Linked DNA regions of Homo sapiens: regions 1 and 2 are each reported to be linked to region 3. Evidence: microRNA targets listed by miRTarBase, many of them from high-throughput screens and not tested one by one. Region 3 holds a microRNA gene; each other region holds the end of a gene's coding sequence.

Region 1 (7,000 bases), not on the chromosome of region 3:
CTCATGGGGAGGTGAGGGATAGTTTAGATGTCTTGTGGTGGTCCCTCTCCACTCTTGCCTGTCCTGGACAGTGTACGACCTTCTAAGTGGCCACATTGTGAAGAAGCTGACCAACCACAAGGCCTGTGTGCGTGACGTCAGTTGGCACCCCTTTGAAGAGAAGATTGTCAGCAGTTCGGTGAGGTTGCAAGGGTTGAGGGTGCTGGCACATGTCTGGGGCTTGGACTTGGGTGGGGGCAGCACATCCTGACTGCTTGCCACCCTCTGCCCTGCAGTGGGACGGGAACCTGCGTCTGTGGCAGTACCGCCAGGCTGAGTACTTCCAGGATGACATGCCAGAATCTGAGGAATGTGCCAGCGCCCCTGCCCCAGTGCCCCAATCCTCTACACCCTTTTCCTCACCCCAGTAGATCCAACCTCCAGCCCCATATAGGGTGAACCTCTTGATAAGCTCTCTGCCTCCTCCTCCCTTTCTCCCTTGTGGGGAATGTTTGGAGGAATCACTGGCATTTGATGGGGAATAACATAAGCCTGGGCTCTGAGCCTCAGCTGAGCCCTGGAAGATTCTCCCCATGGGGCAGAGTGGTCTCCTTACGTGCTCACACCCAGTCAGCTTGGGTCCCTATCTCTGGCCAGAGTTTGGCAGGACTGCCATTATCTGGGGTGTGGCCTCTGCCAGCAAGAGAAGTGTCCTGGGTGTTTTTAATCATGTTTGAATGTTAGGGGTTGGATCCTAGAGTAGATGCCTGAGGCCACATCTGAACAGACCTGTCAGCCAGGCCTGCCAGGTCTTCACGTTGAGGATTCAACTGGCCAATCACAGGACAGGTGTCCTGGCCTTTCTTCCTGAGGTCTCTAGGGGAGGGGCATGGGTAAGGGTGTTTCCTCAGCACCCTCCTGGGGTGGGGATTATGTCTGCTGTCATGTCTGGGTCTTTAGGGTAGGACAGGCTGTGGTATGAGAGGCAGGAGTCTCCACAAGGCTTCATGTGGCCCCTTATAGGGCAGGCCCTGCCCTCTGGGAAGGTCCCTTCATGCTGGAGGCACACAGCTTTAAGGAAGTAGGTTGAAGTAGGACTCCTTCGTCCTCTCACTGGCTTTGGCTCCCTCAATAAACTGTGTGGGAACCTGGCTCAGTGTCTGTCTCTCTCTCTCACTCTCTGTTTTTCCTATCTGAGGTCTTTCATCTCCTCACTTCAGGAAAACACAGTTCAGCAAAGTCTTCAGATGCGATCCTGTGTAGGAGAAAATACCCTTCTGGTGCCCCATGAAAAAGGGAAATACCAAAACCATTTGTTCACTGAGCCTTGCAATAGGTGCTCCCTTACCAATTTCAGAAGCTTCCCTGCAAGTAGATATCGAGAGAGCACACTTTCCATTAGAGCCTGGTAATACCCATATCACCTCTGCTCTGAGGCTGGGCCTGCAGCTGTGTAGTCTTTGGAAGAGGTAGCCCCTGAACGCAGAGCCTAAGAGAAGCAAGTCGGCCCTGACGCCAGGCCCCAGTGGGCGCCTCACACTCAGAACCTCATACCCCAGAGCAAACCGATGGTCAGGGAGAGGGCTAGAGCTCACACCCAGCTCGGAATAGATCTTCCCTGATGACATTTCATGCCCTCTAAGGCAGTTTTTAAATGAAGGTACACACATCCAGGGGTGTTCACAGGCTTTCACAGCAAGGGTACCTATTTCATGGCAAAATAGGCAGTTTTAAAAGAATAAACAAGCTAGGTGTGGTGGCTCATGCCTGTAATCCTAGCACTTTGGGAAGCCAAAGCTGATGGATCGCTTGAGCCCAGGAGTTTGAGACCAGCCTGGGCAACATGGCAAAACCCCATCTCTACAAAAAATACAAAAAGTAGGCCGGGCACGGTGGTTCACACCTGTAATCCCGGCATTTTGGGAGGCCGAGATAGGTGGATCACCTGAAGTCAGGTGTTTGAGACCAGCCTGGCCAACATGGTGGAACCCAATCTCTACTAAAAATACAAAAAAACTAGCCGGATATGGTGGCGGGTGCCTGTAATCTCAGCTACTTGAGAGGCTGAGGCAGGAGAATCGCTTGAACTTGGGAGCAGAGGTGAGCTGAGTGCAGTGAGCCAAGACCATGCCATTACACTCAAGCTTGGGCAACGAGAGCAAAACTCTGTCTCAAAAAAAAAATTAGCCAGATGTGGTGACGCATGCCTGTAGTCCTAGCTACTCAGGAGGCTGAGGTGGGAGGATCACCTAAGGCCAGGAGGTCAAGGCTGCGGTGAGCCGTGATTGTGCCAATGTACTCCAGCCTAGGTGACAGAGTGAGACCCTGTCTCAAAAATAAATAATAAATAAATAAATGTTCAGATCCTTGGCTTCTGTGTTCTCATTCCTCAAATTGATCTACCTAGTGTGAAACTCCCGTGCCAGATCTCCTTTCCCATCCACGCTTTTCATTCCCCGTCTGCCAAGTGATAAAGTTACCTAAGGTGCTACCCATCTCACCCAGAACCTGTGTTACTTCCAGGGCACCAAATTAAGAGAGAAATTCAAATTGTTAGTATCCTTATAGCTTCATTAGATCAAAGCCCCACAGACCGACCATTCTCAGTAAGAGATGCATTTACAATATAATTTTATGTTATCGAAGTAATGTAAAATGTTTGTTGTACAGGCATACCTAGGAGATATTGTGAGTTCATTTCCAGACCACTGTAATAAAGTGAATATTGCATAAGGCGAGTCAATTTTGTTGGTTTCCCAGTGCATATAAAAGTTATGTTGTTTTTAGGCTGGGCACAGTGGCTCATGCCCGTAATCTCAGCACTTTGGGAGGCCGAGGCAGTGGATCACCTGAGGTCAGGAGTTCAAGACCAGCCTAGCCAACATGGTGAAACCTCGTCTCTACTAAAAATACAAAAATTAGCCAGGTGTGGTGGCAGGCGCCTGTAGTCCCAGCTACTCAGGAGGCTGAGGCAGGAGTATCGCTTGAACCTGGGAGGCGGAGGTTGCAGTGAGCTGAGATCGCACCACTGCACTCCAGCCTGAGCCACAGGGTGAGACTCTGGGGAAAAAAAAAATTTTGTTTTGTTTTGTTTTTTTTTTTTTGAGACGGGGTCTCACTCTGTCACCCAAGCTGGAGTGCAGTGGCATGATCTCAGCTCACTGCAGCCTGGACCTCTCCTGGCTCAAGCAGTCCTCCACCTCAGCCACCTGAGTAGCTGAGACTACAGATGCCCACCACTACACCTGGCTAATTTTTGTGTTTTCTGTAGAGATGGGGTTTCGTCCTGTTGCACAAGCTGTTCTCAAACTCCTGGGCTCAAGCGATCCTCCCACTTCAGCCCCCCAAAATGCTGGGATTATAGGCATAAGCCACTGTGCCTAGCCATGAATGTTCTTAATGGCATCTGGAATGGTGAATCCTTTCCAGAAGGTTTTCAGTTGACTTTGTCGACAGCTATCAGAGGAATCACTATGGCAGCTGCAGTCTTACGAAATGTTTTTTTTTTTCTTTTTTTTTTTTTTGCTTGATATAGGGTCTTGCTCTGTCGCTCAGGCGCAGTGGTGCACTCAGCTCACTGAAACCTCTGCCTCCCCCTGGACTCAAGCGATCCTCCCACTTCAGCCTCCCAAGTAGCTGGGACTACCAGCACACACCACCCACATCCAGCTCGTTTTTGTTATTTTTTGTAGAGACGGGGTTCGAAATGTATTTCTTAAAGAGTAAGACTTGGCCGGGTGCAGTGGCTGACACCTGTAATCCCAGCACTTTGGGAGGCCGAGGCGGGTGGATCACGAGGTCAGGAGATCGAGACCATCCTGGCTAACACAATGAAACCCCGTCTCCACTAAAAATACAAAAAAATAGCTGGGCGTGGTGGTGGGCACCTGTAGTCCCAGCTGCTCAGGAGGCTGAGGCAGGAGAATGGCATGAACCTGGGAGGCGGAGGTTGCAGTGAGCCGAGATCGCGCCACCGCACTGCAGCCTGGGCGACAGAGCAAGACTCAGTCTCAAAAAAAAAAAAAAAAAAAAAAGTAAGACTTGCAAGTCAAAATTACTCCTTGATCCATGGGCTACAGAATGGATGTTGTGTTAGCAGGCATGAAAACATTAATCTCCCTGTACATCTCCAGAGTTTGTAGGTGACCAGGTGCATTGTCAATGAGCAGTAATATTTTGAAAGGAATCTTTATTTCTGAGGAGTAGATCTTAACAGTGAGCTTAAAATATTCTGTAACCCATGCTGCAAACATATGTGCTGTCATGCAGGTTTTGTTGTTTTATTTATAGAGCACAGCAGAATACATTTAGCATAATTCCTAAGGCCCTAGGATTTTCAGAATGGTAAATGAGGATTGGTTTCAACTTAAAGTTACCAGGTGCATTATCTCCTAATAAAAAGAGTTAGTCTGTCCTTTGAAGCTCTGTAGCCAGGCCTTGACTTCTCTCTAGCTGTGAAACTTCTATGTGGCATCTTCTTCCAATAGAAGGCTGTTTTGTTTGCTTTGAAAATCTGTAATTTAGTGTAGCCACCTTCATCAATGATCTTAGCTAGATCTTCTGGATAACTTTCTGCAGATTCTATATCAGCACTTGCTGCTTCACCTTGCATTTTTATGTTATGGAGGTGGCTTCTTTCCTTGAGCATTATGAACCAACCTCTCCTAGCCTCCTCACCACTCTCAGTCTTTATAGTATTGAAGAGAATAGGCTGGGCTCAGTAGCTCACACCTATAATCCCAGCACTTTGGGAGGCCAAGATGGAAGGATCACTTGAGGCCAAGGGTTGGAGACCAGTGTGGGCAACATAGTGAGTGTTGGCATGCACATGTAGTCCCAGCTACTTAGGAGGCAGAGCAGGAGGATTGCTTGAGCTCAGGAGTTTGAGACTGCAGTAAGACATGATCATGCCACTGCACTCCAGGCTGGGCAACAACGCAAGACACTGTCTCTTAAAAAAAAAAAAAAAAAGAGTTGGGGCCTTGCTCCAGATTAGGCTTTGGTTTAAGGGAATGTTGTGGCTGCTTTGATCTTCTATCCAGACCACTAACACTTTCTTGATATCAGCAATAAGGCTATTTCACTTTTGTATCATTCATGTGTTCACTGAAGTGTAGTACCTTTTAATTTCCTTTAAGAACTTTTCCTGGACAGGTGCAGCGGTTCACTTCTGTAATCCCAGCACTTTAGGCAAAGACAGAAGGATCACTTGAGCCCAGGAGTTTAAGACCAGCCTGGGCAACATAGTGAGACCCCTGTCTCTACAAAAAATTTAAAAATTAGCCAAACTTCGTGGCCTGCACCTGTAGTCCCAGCTCAGCGAGAGGAGGATCACTTGAACCAGGGAGGTCAAGGCTGCAGTGAGCTGCAATCATGCCACCGGATTAGGCTTTGATTTAAGAGAATGTTGTGGCTGCTTTAATCTTCTACCCAGACCACTAAAACTTTCTCCATGTCAGTAATAAGACTGTTTCACTTTCCTGACAGAAAGTGACCCTGTCTCAAAAACCCCAAAAACTAAGGTATTCATGTACTAATAATATATTTTAGACTACTAACAGTTACAATGAAAATAGAATCCATAGGAAAAAAATTAACTCTTAGGGCTTTATGGTCACAGGACATTTCTATTTTATTTATTTTATTTATTTTTATTTTTTGAGACAGTCTTGCTCTGTTGCCCAGGCTGGAGTGCAGTGGTGTGGAATGCAGTGGTGTGATCACTGCTCACTGCAACCTCAAATTCCTGGGCTCAAGTGATCTTCCCATCTCAGCCTCCTGAGTAGCTGGGTGGGTGCCACCATCTTTGGCTAATTTGTGTATATTTTGTATAGATAAGGTTTCACCATGTTACTCAGGCTGGTCTAGAACTCCTGGGCTCAAGTGATCCTCCTGCCATGGTCTCCCAAAGGACTGGAATTGCAGGTGTGAGCCACCACACTGGGCCCAGAAACTATAAAAAATTAAATTTTTTGGCTGGGCACGGTGGCTCACGCCTGTAATCCCAGCACTTTGGGAGGCCGAGGCAGGCGAATCACTAGGTCAGGAGTTCGAGACCAGCCTGGCCAACATGGTGAAACCCCATGTCTACTAAAAAAAAAAAAAAAAAAAAGTAGCTGGGTGGTGGCGGGCGCCTGTAATCCCAGCTACTTGGAAGGCTGAGGCAGGAGAATCGCTTGAACCCAGGAAGCAGAGGTTGCAGTGAGCCAAGATCGTGCCACTGCACTTCAGCCGGGGCGACAGAGTGAGACTCCATCTCAAACAAACAAAAAATTAAATTTTTTGAGTTACTTTTCTTGCAGAGAAATGTGATAAATGGTCAATAAAAGACTTTCAGGCATAAAAACATATTAGGATAAATTCTGTGAGGGAGTAGAATGGAAATATAATTTCTGATGTAAAATCTTGTCATGTTTTAATGGATAAAGGTGAAGTATCTAATCACTGTAGTATTTACATTTCATTGGATACATTTGAAACAGTGATATAATGGATTTATTTTGAAATGTCAGTATATGATACACTAGAAATTATGTCCTTTGCAACTATTTAAAACCACAATGAGACCAGGCATGGTAGCTCATGCCTGTAATCCCACCACTCTGGGAGGCCAAGGCAGGAAGATCACCTGAGGCCAGGAGTTCAAGACCAGCCTGGTCAACTTAGTGAGACTTTGTCTCTACAAAATAAATATTGAAACAAGGTCTCACTCTGTTGCTTAGGCTTGGAGTGCAATAGTGCCATCACGGCTCACTGCAATGTCAACCTCCTGGGCCCAAGTGATCCTCCCATTTCGGCCTCCCAAGTAGCTGGAATTACAGGCACGTGCCACTATGCCCAGCTAATTTTTTTAATTTTTGTAGGGACGGCGTCTCACTGTGTGAGACCAGCTCAAGGTGGTCCCGAACTCCTGTGGCTCCTCAGGCTGGTCCCAAAGTGCTGGGATTACAGGCATGAGCTACCACACCTGGCCAAAAAATAAAAAATAACCAACCATGGTGATGCATTCCTGTAGTTCTAG
Region 2 (7,000 bases), not on the chromosome of region 3:
AGTGAAAATCTGCTGTCTGCCTCATCTCATGGGTTTCTCTGCAGGATTGAGACCCCTTGCCTTGGTGTACACAAATTGCTTGCATCAGCTTGAGATCCCAGGACCTTTGCCAGGCCACGGGTAGGCATCTGTCTGGCTTGGGATGGGAGTTTCTTAGGACACTTATTCCCTCATCTTGCTTTCCTAACCCAGGAGTTGACGTCATTTTTAAAAGGAGTGAAATCTCAAAGAAAATTCTAATACATACCTTCTTTTTTTTTTTTTTTGTGACGGAGTCTCGCTCTGTCTCCCAGGCTGGAGTGCAGTGGTGCATCTTGGCTCACTGCAAGCTCTGCCTCCTGGGTTCACGCCATTCTCCTGCCTCAGCCTCCCCAGTAGCTGGGACTACAGGCGCCCGCCACCAGGCCCGGCTAATTTTTTTGTATTTTTAGTAGAGACAGGGTTTCACCGTGTTAGCCAGGATGGTCTCAATCTCCTGACCTCGTGATCTGCCCCACCTCGGCCTCCCAAAGTGCTGGGATTACAGGCATGAGCCACTGCACCCGGCCTCTGATACATATTTTCAAAGCCTTAATAATTTTCTGTCATGACTACTTCTACTGTGTCTATACATTTAGCATAATTTCAAAAGGACTAGATAAAATTTTTAATGTTAATCTGAAGGGGAAAAAAGGAGTAGAATTAGGAGCCAGAGTTGTTTAAATGTGGAATATGTTGTATAGTGGTCACATGGTACTGGTGGTAATAGTGGCAGAAATGGCAAAAGAGCCATTGGTTGATAAGGTTCAGGAGGGCCTAGGCTGTTCCTTTGTAAACTGTGCTCAGATATACTCTCTTGGCTGTCCTGGGACTCCTACAGGGCTTGAACATTTTGTATCAATTTCTGTTTTGAAGGTGCTGGGACTCTGGTGCCCCCAACCCTGGGCATCCTCAGGCTTTGAGGAGAATACACAGGATTTGAAGTCAGAAGACCTAGGTTTGAGTTCTGGCTGAGCCACGCACTGTTCATGTGACCTTGGACAAATCACCAAATTTTTCTGAACAGCATCTGTAAAGTGACAGTAACCCCTACCTCACAGGGTTGTTGTGAGGATTACATATATGCTAAAGCATTTTGCATATGAAAAAGCTTCTTATGAATATTGTTATTCCTAGGCAAACCCCCCTTGGAAGCTGTCAAAAAGGACAACTGTAGATGAAATTGTCTTCCTTTTTTCTTCATTCAGCTTAGCCTTTCTGTTTGGCCAGGGCTACTTACAGGGGCTGTTGGGGTTGAAGTCAAGTCACCGCATTTTGGCTCCTTTGGTCAAAGAGAAAGAACTCTAATGTCCAGCTGCTCCATCGATATACTCATAGAATGGAAGTGAGCAAAGGAAAATTTTAAGCCAGGATAGTTAACCGTTAGGGGGCCAGTGGGAGAATGCTTGCCTTGCATTTGCACATCCAGAATGACTAAAACATCTTAAGTAAATGAGGAATAGCCACCGAGATGCTCAGAGATAATATAAGCCATGAGTGGGAAGTGGGAAAATGAGTTTGTCAACGCCCTCTCTTTTCTATCCCTTTACCTTTGAGGTCAGGGACAGGGCATATTACTGACACCCCACTGGCTATTGCCCTATACCTGCCAATCACCCAAAGAAAATAATAGCTTCTGAGAAAGCTCAATTCACTGTAGCAACTGTGATATATTTACCCTAATAAAGCCACCACTTGGTCTTTTCCAGTGCTTCTCTCTTATGGAGATCATCCCTGGAATCCAAAGCTCTCCAGTTTTCTAACCCAGTTAAGAGTTAAAAACAACCACAGGTCATGAGCAGTAGGCTTGGCAGTTATACCCCATGCAGTCATAGGAGACTGCTCCATCATTCTCAGCACATAGGGTGCACATCTCACTATCTCTGGCATGAACCAGCCTTGCGAACTTATACAGTCTCAGCCACTCTGCTTTGATGGTAATTCTTCACCACTGATCTCTCCTCACCATGCCCTTCCTGCATCCTTCCCCCAACCACCCACCAGAGGAGTTCTGGTCCCCAAACCAAAGAGTTGCCTGCAGGTTGGTAATGTGACTTTGTAGATATTCCTTGATTAAAGCCAGACCCTATTGGTATCCTTTTTGAAGTACTGGATCGAAATCTAATTGCTTTTTTTTTTAATTGTTGGGGAGAGGAGGATGAGCAGAACTCCTATGCAGCCTGAGAGAAGTTCTCTATGTGTCTGTATATGTACACCTCTGTGTGTGTGTGTGTAACCTCATGGTTGTGCTCAGGCTGACAGGGAGGGCAAAGAGTGAAAAGGAAGCATCTCTTTCTTGTTATCCAACATTGCTTCAAAGATGCCCAACCCCCGTAGTAGCAGGCAGTTCCCAAGTGGAGGGTCGGGGCAGAGGCCTCCACCAAGGCCATCAATAACCAGGTGTGAGCTACAGGTCTCTGTGTAATGTGAAGCTCTCCCGTATTTCATTTCTGCACCCAGGGGGCGGCTCTGCAGGATTGCTTACGGAGAACTCTGTGTCTGGCACCTCTCTCCACAAGGCCCAGGCGCCCAGGGTCCCACCGACCTGCCCAGGAATGCATCACATTGTTCTCTGGTGCTGTAATTTGGCTGCAGGAGCTAGGCTGAATGCCTCCCAGGGATGAGAAACATACTCTCCCTGGCGTCCTCCCTTCGCCCCAGCTAGCTTGAGCTTCTGCCCTATGACCACTGAGTGCATTTAAATAAAAACCTCAGAAAGACTGAGGAAAAAAAAATCCTAATTATCTCTCTTCTGTTAAGCCATGTAGAGACTCGTGTCCTGAGTGGGTCTGAGAATTTGGCAAAGACTTACTGGTTGGTGTTCTTGATAAGGGAAGTGAGACAAAGGAGAAGAAATTACTCCCTGCAACAGGAGGAATAGAAATGAAGCAGTGAGTGTTCAGAAATTAGATCTACAAGAAGTTTTGCAAACAGACCCTCAGGGCCAGGCAATGTTTGTTTTTGTTTTTTGTTTTTTGTTTTTTTTTTTAATCTGAAGCCCCTGATTTTATTTTTCCAGCATCACTCTAAGGAAGAGTGTGGATTAGTGCCATTATTCAGGGCTGGTATTAATAAAAGTTAGCTTTTATCTGCAGGGCTAGGTTAAGGCTGGCATTCTTACTTTTACATTAAAAAAACTGGCTACAGGCTGCGCAGCTGAGGTACTTCAGTCATGTGCCTTCTCTAAAGGATTCTTAGATCCTTAAAATATATAGTATGTTTTAAGTTTGTATCTAAATAGCACTTACTGTAATGTATTATACCTAAATGTTTATTAAAAGTTAGAAGAAATGAGTACCAACAGGAAGGAATGGAAGAGAGGAGAGGGGCTAAGACATTGCTGATCTGAGGGACAGACCTCTATCAAATAGAAGAGGGCTGGGAGAAGGGGTGATTAGAAGCAGAGTGAGGGAACTAAATGGAGCCCTGACTGCACCAAATAAAGTTCTCATTTTGCTGCTTGTTCCAAATAAATTAGTGTCTATTTGTGTAATGCAGACTAAATGCCAGTTGTGTAAAGCCAATCAATGCAGAAGCAAGCTAAGAACTAGGAGGAAAAATTAATTGCTTGGCCATCATTCCTTTTGGGACCACATAACCTCCGTGGTGGGGCTCAAATGGACATCATTTCTCTCTTATGCACCTCTCTTTTCAAACTTCTCACTCTCTGGACAGCTTGCTCTTTTCTTAACCATTTATAGGAAATTGCAAAACTTGCATCTTTATGAGCTAGAATTTGGAGCCCAAGGAAAAGCACAGAGTAGCATGAGATGCCAGAAGAGGCCCATTTCCTTCCACAGGGATGAGAACCAAAAACCAAAGAATAGAGAGTAGGGTATAGGTAGATTTAAGTCAGGTTGACGTCCTATGGAAGGCATATGCCATTATTTATGTGGTAACCTGCATGTTCTTGTGAGAACAGGGGCTGGCCAGGACCTGAGGCTTTCCCCAGCAGCCTGGCATATAATATAAGGCAGCTTCCTTTGGTAAATTCATTCAGCCCTATTGTTGAGTTCAGACTGACCATGACCCCCTTACCTCTCCACTACCCCAAAGCTTTCCTCAAGATGTCAGCTGTTCTCTTCCCCTCCCATTTCCCCCTCCTTAATCCCACCATTGGCTCATCAGTTATCCAGTTGACTCCATTCTGAAGGAAGACATTCTCTTGGCCTGACTCACTCAGGCCCATTTCTCCACAGGCATCCCCTTACCGCAGACCACAAGGGCCCTGACTAGCTCATGTTTTGTGTTAATGGATGTGAAACCAGAGCAAATCCCCTCACCAAAAGAAAAACCACCCTAAACTCTCCCACACAGGTCTCAGCAGGTTACACAAATATTAGTCCTATCATCCAAATAAATCTGCCCCCGTGGCCCAGAGCTATGGCTCCCCCAACCTCCTGCTGCCTGTGCAGAGTGAAGCTGCTTCAAAAACATGAGGACCCCAAGGGATATTGGAGAGGAACTTTGGAAAGACAGGGGCCTGTATCCAGAATTCTTTATGCAGGCTCCTTAATCTACAGACTTTTGTTAATACTTTATAGTCCTAAAGAAGGACTGTTCCTAGAGAAGTCATGATGGGCTAGACCAGCCAGGGGCTTTGGTGAAGAGGATCTGCGGGCTGGAGTTTGGTGCATAATTAAAACTCAGCGTCTGACAGCTGGGCACAGTGGCTTGCGCTTGTACGCCCAGCACTTTGGAAGGCTGCAGTGGGAGGATTGCTTGAGACCAAGAATTCAAGACCAGCCTGGGCAACATAGTGAGCTCCATCTCTGAAAACTATGTTTAAATTAGCTGGGCATGATGGCATGGCCCTGTAGTCCCAGCTAATGGGGAGGCTGAGGTGGGAGGATTGCTTGAGCCTGGGAATTTGAGGCTGCAGTGAGCCATGATCATGCCAGTGCACTCCAGCCTGGGCAACAAAGCGAGACCCTATCTCTAAAAGAAATAAAAAGAAAGAAAAAAAAGAACAGGTACGTATCCTCATTTTACAGATGAGAAAATAGAAGCTCAGAAAATTTAGCTACCTTGCTCAAAATATCAAAGCAAATGGCACAGCTGTGATTTTTAACCCGGGTCTGTCATAACCGCAAATTTCTATACCACTCTGCTGCTTTAAGATATCAACAGGCAAAAGATAACCACTGTCCAACTCACATAAAAATAGGACATCAAGTTTTGGGGGACTTCATGTCCTACCTCCAGCTTACTAAGCCTGCTATCTCTGGAGATTCCACTACTGCAAACCTAGTTAGGCAATGGGTAATAGCATTACCCATTAAGCCAAATGTGGAGTGAACAATAATAATAATCACTAGGACTTGGAGAGTCACTAAATAAAGATTTGTTGAGTAAGTGGAGGAAGGCTGCCTTCTAAGCTGTGTATCACTTTGGCCCCAACCTGCAGTACTCCTTCCCACTGTAGCCACTGACTCCTGCTCCCAGCTTCAAAGGCTAGGATCCTCTCATAAAGAATTACCAAAGCCAGAGATCCCTACCTGCCTAATATATACTGATGCCTCATGTGGGCCCTTGAGATCAGACCTGCTTACCTGCTCTCCCACCATCCATGAGTTGCCTATCTTTCTTTTACTCCATGTCTCCCCAAACCTGGCAAACCTCCAGAATAGTGCATGGGAAGAGAAGAAAAGAAAAGAAAAAAAAAAAAAAAAAAAAGGCAACACAAGGCCTAGCCAGACTTACTACATTAATCTATCCTAGGAGTGTTCTAGGGTGTTTTAATGATTTGTTAAGCATGGGAACCACTGCATTCCACCTCAGTTTGAACAGGCAGCAAGTAAGCAAAAGAGGCAGTGCTGTCCAATACAGGTTGAGAATGGTAGAGAGAAAAAGAGAGAATGAATGTGTGTTTGTATTGTTATGATTCTTTTTCTTCTACAAAACACAGTTTATAAACATATGAGCATGTGAATGGAACCTTGTCCACTATGGCTAACATCTCAGGCTCTCAATAATAGAATGTGGTAGCCTAAGATTTTCTTTCGGGGTACCAGGTAGTTCTGCTCAAACGGACTTCAGAGAAGGGACATGCCATTCATCTTTGTCCCATCTAACTTTGGCCAGGTAGAAACAAAAAGAAGCTCTCTACAGGTACCCTTCCTCTTGCACACCAAGAAGTATCGGGAAGCTGGTGCAAAGGAAAGAAAAAAGGAGCCTCAACTACGTACTTTAGTGCAACTCATTTCACTCTAAAGACCCCCTATCTCTTCTACTCTCCCTTCAAATCTCCAGAGCGGGAAATCAGGGAGCTTGCTCAGTTTCTTATATCCCCTGACAACTCCTTCCCAGGGCTAAGGAACCAGCCAGGACACCATGGTCCCTATGGATTACTCTCTACATCCTTAAATAGAAGCGGTAGCAGCCCAGGGTGGAGGGTGGAGGAAGGTGTGCATGCAAGGATCTTGTGCTTTTGAGTTGAGAGGCTTGAATTGGAGGGATGAGTGAGGTATCTGTGTGTTCAGGTTTGGTCCAGCCACTCTGCCTTCTTGGGGGCTTTGCAAGTATGGACGTCCACAGTATTTCTGCATTCCTTGCACCGTACAGCACAGCACCAGTGGAATTTGCACTCACACTGGGTAACACGGGTGACTCGAGTTGTGTCGTACCCTCGGCCACAGCACATGATTTCACAACCGTCTGTTCCTTTTGATGTCTTGCTGCAGACACGGCCTGCAGTGCCTAGGGAACCTGGGTTGGGGAAGAGAGGGAGTGAGAACAAAGTTATCTCTTCAGCTGCCCTGGATACCCTTAACCACATTCTCAGAAGGAAGATAAAAAGAATCGCTTTTTTGGGCTGGGCACAGTGGCTCACTCATGCCTATCATCCCAGCATTTTGGAAGGCCAAGGCAGAAGGAATCCTTGAGTCCAGGAATTCAAGACCAGCCTGGGAAACATAGCAAGCCCTGTCTCTACAAAAACTTAAAAAATTAGCCAGGTGCCATGGGCATGAGCCTGTAGTCC
Region 3 (8,281 bases):
ATGTAATATTTTTTTTGCCACCACACCAATCCTGAAACGATTCCTTATCTGAAAAAAGAATATTTTTATTAGTCCTATAATTCTAAGATTTCTTAATCAAAAACCGTTATGCTAGATGTTTCAAATCCAGGCCCCGTATAGCATAAATAAACTTCATTTCTATTCAAACCATTTTAATTTAACAAAATAATTTTTATTTTATTATAATTACTTAATTTTGAACTGAATTCTGAATGCACAATTTAATTACTACCAAATGTGTTTTGTGCTTTAGAGAAAATAATAGAGAATTTTGACCTGCTTTAGGATAATAAAGAAGTCAAAACTGAGAACCTCTCAAGGCTTTTCTCATAGTAGCAGTTTATTTTCCTTAAGTGGCATCTCTATTCTATCACAAAGTCATTTATTGACATATGAATTTGGGTTTGTTCTCATAGCTTGTAGACATTTTCTCTTTCTCATTCCAAGAAAGGAGACAAACTTCTGTATTCTGAGTTCTGAGCAACATTTTTCAGAGAATGGTAGTTTTTAGCTGATTTTGTGTTGCCATGGAAGGAAAATTGTAGAATGCAAGATATTGAAAAAACCTGAAACTGAAGCTTTGCTGAGAAGAGCAGATATATTATTGTAAAACATGCATAACCAAAGACTCAAAAGAACAAAACTCTGAAACTCTGAGATGACCGAGACACAGTTTCTGCTCTCAAATAGCTCACCAGTCTATTAGAGTAACCTGTAAAACTAGTCAGTGCCAATGTTAAGCAATGTAATGAAGGTATGGAGAATGTACCCTAATTTGGCACTTAACCTGGACTGGGGGTAACAAGGAAGGCTTTTGGGAGAGGTGATGGTTGAGAGGTTTTGTTTTTGTTGTTGTTGTTGTTGTTGTTTTGGTTTTGTTTGTTTGCTTGTTCATTTTTGAGACAAGGTTTACTCTGTTGCCCAGGCTGGAGTGCAGTGGTGCAATCATAGCTCACTATAACCTCAAACTCCTGGGCTATAGCAATCTCCCCACCTCAGCCTCCTGAGTAGCTAGGACTACAGGCACATTCCATCATGCTCAGCTAATTTTTTAATTTTAATTTTTTGTAGAGATAGGGCCTCACTGTGTTGCTCAGGCTGAACTCAAACTACTGGCCTCACACAATCCTCCTGCCTTAGCCTCTCAAAGCATTAGGATTACAGGCATGAGTCACCGTGCCTGGCTAACTTGTGAGTGTCTATGTAAGAGATATCCAGGCAGAGAAGGGCATTCAAGAAAGTAAGAATAGCATGTGCAAACACACAGAGGCAAGACAGAGCATGGCATCTTCAATGAACTGCAAATAATTCTAAATAACTGGAGCATAGGCTGCAGTGGGGTAGGGTACCTAGGGTACGGTAGTGGGGTACCCTAGGTGGAGTAGTGATTGAAAAGACATTAAAATATTTTTAGTAGAGAAATGATGTGATTATATTTACATATCTTTTTAAGAAAGATTGTTCTGATTGTACTGTGTTAAAAGGATTATAGGGAACCAAAAGTGGAGGCAAGCAAAGCAGACCAGTTAGCAAGCTATTCTAGGGGTCAAGCTGAGTGATGATAATGTCTTGGACCAGAGAGTTGGGATGGAAATAGGGAGACATATTCAAGAAAAATTTCAGAAGTAGAAATCACAAGGATTTGTTACCAAAAATTGATACAGGGTAGGGAAAGATACAAAGAATGACAGGATGATTCCTAGGATTCTGGTTCTGGTCAATAGGTTGGCTTCAGGTGGGTGTCATTTATTAAAAAATAAGGAGTAACTGAAGGAAGAGAAAATCTGAGAGTAGGAAGCTGTGAGATGTTGCTTTCTATTTTGGATGAGTTAAGTGTGAGTGTTCCCCAGGGACATTTAAGTGGAGATGTTCCATAGACAGTAAAATATGAGTCCTGAGCAAAGAGAGGATACCTGAAGCCATGGGAGAAGATGCAATTACCCCGGGAGAGTGTGTAGATTGAGAAGAGGGCATAGGGAAGAAGAACAGAGATGAAGAGATCTAACATTATGTATAATTGTCACCCTTCTAATTCCTTGTTTGTAGAGTGGGCTGATTTCTGGATTTGTAGGTTAGCCATGGCACTTAAAATTATCTTGGGAAAATATGACTTTTGAAACACTGGTTCTGGTGTAGGCCTGTTACTTACCCAATGAATAATCATATAGGGATTTCAAAAAACTTTCACACATGGTGTCCTATTGTATATTAATACACAATAGTTCCAAGAGACTTAAACACATAACCCTTCACATTAAAATACACATAAAATCTAAATTAAAAGCATTAACTCATTATAGGAAAGATTAAAATGTATGTTTTTACAATGATAAAATTAATAAGACTTATTTTTGATATATGTTAAATGTAAAAAGTATTAGCAAAATGTATCTGTCAATGGATGAGTGGATAAAGATAATGTGGTATATATGTACAATGGAATACTATTTGGCCTTAAAACAGAGGAAATTTTGTCATTTTCAACAACATGTATGAACCTGGAGGACATTATGCTAAGTGAAATGAGCCAGGCACAGAAAGACATATATTGCATGATTCCACTTATATGTGGAATCTAAAGAAGTCAAACTCATAGAAGTAAAAGAGTAGAATGGTGGTTGCCAGGGCCTCAGGAGGTGGGTGAGAGGGGAATGGAGACATGTTGGTGAGAGGGTACAAAGTTTCAGTTAGATAGGAGGACTAAGTTCTTGAGATCTAATGCACAGAATGGCGACAACCGTTATTAATAACATAATGAATATTTCAAAATTGCTAAGAGAATAGATTTTAAATGCTGGCACCATGATATGGTTTGACTGTGTCCCCACAGAGATAATTGAATCATGGGGGCGGTTTCCCTCATCCTGTTCTCCTGATAATGACTTAGTTCTCACGAGATCCGATGGTTTTATAAGGGGATTCCCTGTTCACTGGGCACTCATTTCATTCTCCTTCCTGCAGCCCTGTGAAGAAGGACGTGTTTGCTTCCCCTTTCACCACAACTGTGAGTTTCCTGAGGCCTCCCCAGCCATGCTAAACTGTGAGTCAATTAAACCTCTTTCCTTTATAATTACCCGGTCTTGCATAGTATCTTTGCAGCAACATGAGAATGGACTAATACACACCACAAAAAAAAAAGTTAAGATGAGGTGACAAATATAGGAATCAGCTTGATTTCAACATTGCATAATGTGTGCATATATCAAAACATCACATTGTACTCCGTAAATATATATAATTATTTTTCAATTAAAAATTTTCTAATTAACAAAATAAAAATCACTTCAAATCCTACCTTGAGTTTACTACTTTAATATGTTTCCTATAAGCCTCATTTCCATCAAGTATTTTTTCTTTGCTCATGTGTATGTGAACAAAATCAGGAGATATATACTAATAATTTTTTATTCTGATTTTTTGTATTTAACATTAAAGTATGTACATTGTCATTTTGATTGGCTTTCTTTGATTTGCTTACAGGGAACAATTTGGAAAACAGCACTTACGGACTGTAAAGACTTTTTCCAGGAACAAACAAGACAAGAACTTTGTGCTAATATATTACAATGAACCTAGAAACATTTTTCATATCACCAAAGGAAATTGCAACTGGGGGCAAAGAATACTCAGTATTGGCTACTTTCATGTCACATAATCACTCTTATCTGCATGTGAGACAGCGTCCATAGTAGATGAAGGCAAGGGAGAAGTGGATTCTGAATGGCTTTTGAGTAGTAAATATTCAGTGTCTGTCATATTAGCTCACATGACCTCACAGGCCTTCACTAAAAAAGTGTTTAAGATTTTAAAATACTGGGCCATTGCATTGTCATCTTTATTTATGAACTGTAAGCCTGTCACTTGGGAGCATTTTCAATGAAAACTTCTCATACCTTCAATAAGTTACCCTTCAGTGACTGTTTTTGTTATTGCTTTGTTTTGAAAATTATTTGGGGATAAGGACTACCATTAAATTTTTTCTGTGGTGGGTGTGTTATGTAAAATTAAAGGGTTTAATGCAGTTTATCTCAGTTGGTTTAACTCAACATAGATTGAATCCCTACCAATTGACAAGAACTGTGCAGATCAATCTAGAAATGTACAGTCTAATGTCATTGAGGAGTGCCAAATGATATATTTTCCAAGTAATATAGAGACCACATAGCTTCTAACCTCATTCCACTCACTGAAAATGATGGCTCTAATAATAAAAATTTTCAGGGGTAGACCACTGAAGTTTAGCAACTCCCTAGATTTGGCAGCAGACAGGAAACTGAGAGGGGCACACATTACACTTGAGTTACTTAATTGAAACCTTGCTCCTCCTCCTCCCTCTTCTCCTCCTTTTCTTTTTTCATCCTTTCTCTACACTCTCCCCTTTTTGCTTCTTCTTCTCTATAGAGACCTTGGTTCTAGTGCTTTACTCTCATGTAAAAGTTTGGGAAACTCAAATTTATTTATTAGAACATTATTATTCCAAACACATTTGAGAACATCAAGTTTCTCCCCCAAAATGATAATTCTATTACTTCAAAAATGAACAAGAGAGAAGAAGAGGGGGAGGGAAGAGAGAGAGAGAGAGAGAGAGAGAGAATGTCTGAACATATAGTGGATTAGAATAACTATTTATTTGGAGGAAAAAAGTAGAGTAACGTAATTAAACCCTGAATAATATTTACTGATAGTTTTGTTATATAAATGTTTAAAAATAGAGCCGTGATACCTATTTGGGATTAACAGTAGTTCCAAAGGTAAGAATATATAGACTAATAACATAAATTTCACAAATTGTTGCATTGTGACATTAATAATATATTTCTAAATGGGAACAATTATCAACCACCGATAAACAGTCAAAACAAAGAACCCCAATTTATTCAGAGATGTGTAAAGCTGGGCACACCTCATTCATAGATTTTTTATTTTTAGAATTCTCGACATATTAAATTTTTCTGAGGAAAAAATGTATATTCATTTATTCATACTCATTTTTGAACTAACATTTATTTAAGGTCCACAATATGCTAGATATTTTATATTATTTTTTGATTACTTAATGCAAATATAGCAACATTATGAAGCAAGTATTATTATCCCTGTTTTACAAATAAGGAAATAAACTCAGGGAGGTGAATGTGATCAAAGATAGATATATAGTTAAGAAAGTTAAAGAGACAGGATTCAAGCCTAAGTCTGTCTGACTTCAAATCTCTCTTCTTCCCACTATTTATTGCTCCCTATGAGTTTATATTAATGAAATCTAAAATCCCACTTAAAACCGTATAATGAAGAAATTAAGAAAACCACCTGAGATAGTGATATAATTTTTCTAATCACTAAATATTTTTTTCTTAGCTCTTCTTGTGGAACAATATACAATATGATTCTTGGGATTGGTTGAGCATGTCTGCCTTATTCTAACTCAAATTTATTTAAGATATGTGTTTTATAGTATTCTGCTACTGGAAATATTACAAATACAGTAATAAAATATATCATTTATTAAGTAAAATAATAAGGAACATGAGTAAAACATTTTGCCTATATTATGCCAGCAGCTATGCTATGCACTGGCAACACACACAGGCTTACAATGAACCCAGAGGTGGGAGCATCTATGTCACCAGGAGAAATTTAAGGATGATTTAACATTTAAAAACTATTAATATGGTTTATTACATTAATAGATGAAAGGAGTGAAAAACATGATCAGTGCTTAGCCCATAGTAGGCAGTCAATAAATAGATGCGGAAAAGGCTTTGGTCAAAATTCTAGACCCATTCATGATAAAAGCTCCTTAGCAAACTAGAAATAGAAGTCAGCTCCCTTAACTTAATAAAACCTACAATAAACATACACTAACGGTGAACTGTTTTAACCTTACCTTTTTCACAGCCAGGAAAATTAGAAGTATGTCTAGTATCACCACTTCTGTTTAGCATTGTATTGGAGGTCCTTGGCAGTTCAGTAAGACAAGATAAAGAGTTAAAATGTATAGGATTGAAAAGGAAAAATAAAACTGTCATTGATCACAGATTATATAATTATCAACATAGAAAACTAAAAAGAATTATAGATATATTATTAGTAAGAGAGTTTAGCAAGGTTATTAGCTACAAGATCAACATATAACGTTAATTTTTTTCCTATACATCAACAGCAAATTATTATAAAAGAAAAGTTTAAGAAACAGTATATGATGCCTTGGAATACATAAAAGATGGTCAAGACTTTTTAATTAGTCAGGTAATGTTCGCTATGCTGTGGTAACACATAATCCCTGAAATAGCCATGTTGTAACACAACACCAATTTATTTCTTGCTCCAGTTACAGTTAATGTGAGTCAGGTGGCTCTCTGGCACAGCTTCCCTTTAAGAGCTGACTCAAGATTCCTGGAAGCTTCCAAACTGTGGCAATGCCATCTGGACTACTAGTTAGTTATAGAAAGGAGAAAAAGGAATGCAAGAGGCAAACTGGCTCTTAACTGCCCAGCTACCTGAACTTATCTTCAAAGTAGAGTGGGAAATGCGGATCTGAACATGGATATTTGGTGGACACTATCAGTGTCTGCCAAAAGGTATAATATTATTTAGAAAACATAGTAAAAAATTAAATAAAATGAGTGATATACCCTCCCATTCATGGATGGGAAAGTGAAGTAATATTGAATGCAATTCCAATCAAACTTGCAACAAGGATTTGCGTGTGTATGTGTGTGGAACTTGACAAAATGATTCCGAAATGTATATGAAAGAGCAAAGGGCCAAGCATAACTAAGACAAAAAAAAAAATGAGGCAGAAAGGCTGACTCTACCAGGTATCAATACGTGTTCGAAAGTTACAGTAATTAAAATAACATCATCTTAGTATAGGAATTGACAAAATAGCAATAACATTGAATATAGTCCAGAAACAGATTTCATGTATAAGAATTTAATAATTGATAATGGTAATATTTCAGATTAGTGTGAAAAAGATGATCTCAAAAAATGGCATGAGGAAAATTGGATATTCATATATGAAATTTTATGTTAGATTTCTATCTCACATAAATCCCCCAAATAAATTTCAGGTCAGTTAAAGAGCTAAAAGTTTTCTTTTTTTTTTTTTTAAAGGTATTGTATTAGGGTTCTATAAAGCAACAGAACTATTAGCATATATGCATATGTATATGAAGGGGAGTTTATTAGGAAAATTGATTCACACGATCACAAGGTGCAGTTCCACAATAGGCCATCTGCAAGTTGAGGAGCAAGGAAGTCAGTCGGAGTCCCAAAACCTCAAAAGTAGGGAAGCCGATAGTGCAGCCTTTGGTCTGTGGCCAAAGGCCTGAGAGCCACAAATCACTGGTGTAAGTCCAAGAGCCCAAAAGCTGAAGAACTTGGAGTCTGATGTTCGAGGGCAGGAAGCATCCAGCACAGGAGAAAGATGAAGGCCAGAAGACTCAGCAAGTCTCCTCATTCCACTTTCTTCTGCCTGCTTTATTCTAGCCATGCTGGCAGCTGATTAGATGGTGCCCACCCAGATTGAGGGTGGGTCTGCCTCTCCCAGTCCACTGACTCAAATGTTATTCTCCTTTGGCAACACTCTCACAGACAAACCCAGAAATAATACTCTGCATCCTTCAATCTAATCAAGTTGACACTCAATATTAACCATCACAGGTGTTTTAGCAACATGTGGGACATATTTTCCTACTAATGAATTGAGAAAGACTCTTCTAAACAAGATGCAAAGTCCAGAGCCATAAAAGAAAATATTAAGTGAATTGTCTATATCAAAATTTAAAATTTCTAGGTAATGAATCACACCATAAAAGTTAAAATCTAGAATGAAAAAAAGATTTGCAATATGTGTAATGAAGTATTAATATGAAAATATAAAAAGAATTTTTGCAAGTTATAATAGTGGCAAGGGCATAAACTGAGAAATCATAGAAGAGGTAACTGAAAATTGGCATTGAACATATGTTTCGATGTATAAGGAGGGAAATGCATAGTATAACAATATGATACCATATTTTTTAGCTCATTAGATTGGCAGACATTTAAAAAGTAATAATATCTAGTATCAGTGAGTGGAAATCAGCTTTTTTAAAGTACCATTTGGCAGTCTATCAAAATGTAAAGTGTACATACCCTTTAAACCAGTAATTCAACCACTAAGACTCTATCTACCAGAGATATGCATGTGAACAGAGATATAAGTATGAGATGTTTGTTGAATCATTACTTAAAAGAACAATAAAACTGAAAACAA

What was found. Region 3 holds the annotated microRNA hsa-miR-1321 (CAGGGAGGUGAAUGUGAU, at 5,144-5,161, shown strand). A microRNA usually pairs through its seed, bases 2 to 8, with sites in the 3' UTR of a target mRNA and lowers its output. Matches are read on the target gene's strand: a 7mer-m8 pairs with bases 2 to 8, a 7mer-A1 pairs with bases 2 to 7 and ends in A, and an 8mer does both.
Region 1: the mRNA of DCAF11 is a reported target of hsa-miR-1321. Seed matches in the 3' UTR shown: 7mer-m8 at 465-471.
Region 2: miRTarBase lists ST7L as a target of hsa-miR-1321. Seed matches in the 3' UTR shown: 7mer-m8 at 2,664-2,670.

The regions. Positions count from the first base shown.
Region 1 is chr14:24,122,900-24,129,899 of GRCh38, forward strand. DCAF11 (DDB1 and CUL4 associated factor 11) reads left to right here. Exons shown (of 15, transcript NM_025230.5): 14 at 72-178; 15 at 276-2,343. The coding sequence ends at 410. Among named protein-coding and RNA genes, the nearest start is that of FITM1, 4.3 kb to the right of the region's middle.
Region 2 is chr1:112,520,006-112,527,005 of GRCh38, reverse strand. It overlaps ST7L (suppression of tumorigenicity 7 like), which reads left to right. Exons shown (of 15, transcript NM_017744.5): 15 at 895-3,492. The coding sequence ends at 993. It overlaps WNT2B (Wnt family member 2B), which reads right to left. Exons shown (of 5, transcript NM_024494.3): 5 at 1-6,726. The coding sequence ends at 6,497. Among named protein-coding and RNA genes, the nearest start is that of WNT2B, 15 kb to the right of the region's middle.
Region 3 is chrX:85,830,689-85,838,969 of GRCh38, forward strand. MIR1321 (microRNA 1321) reads left to right here and starts at 5,092; the gene lies at 5,092-5,170.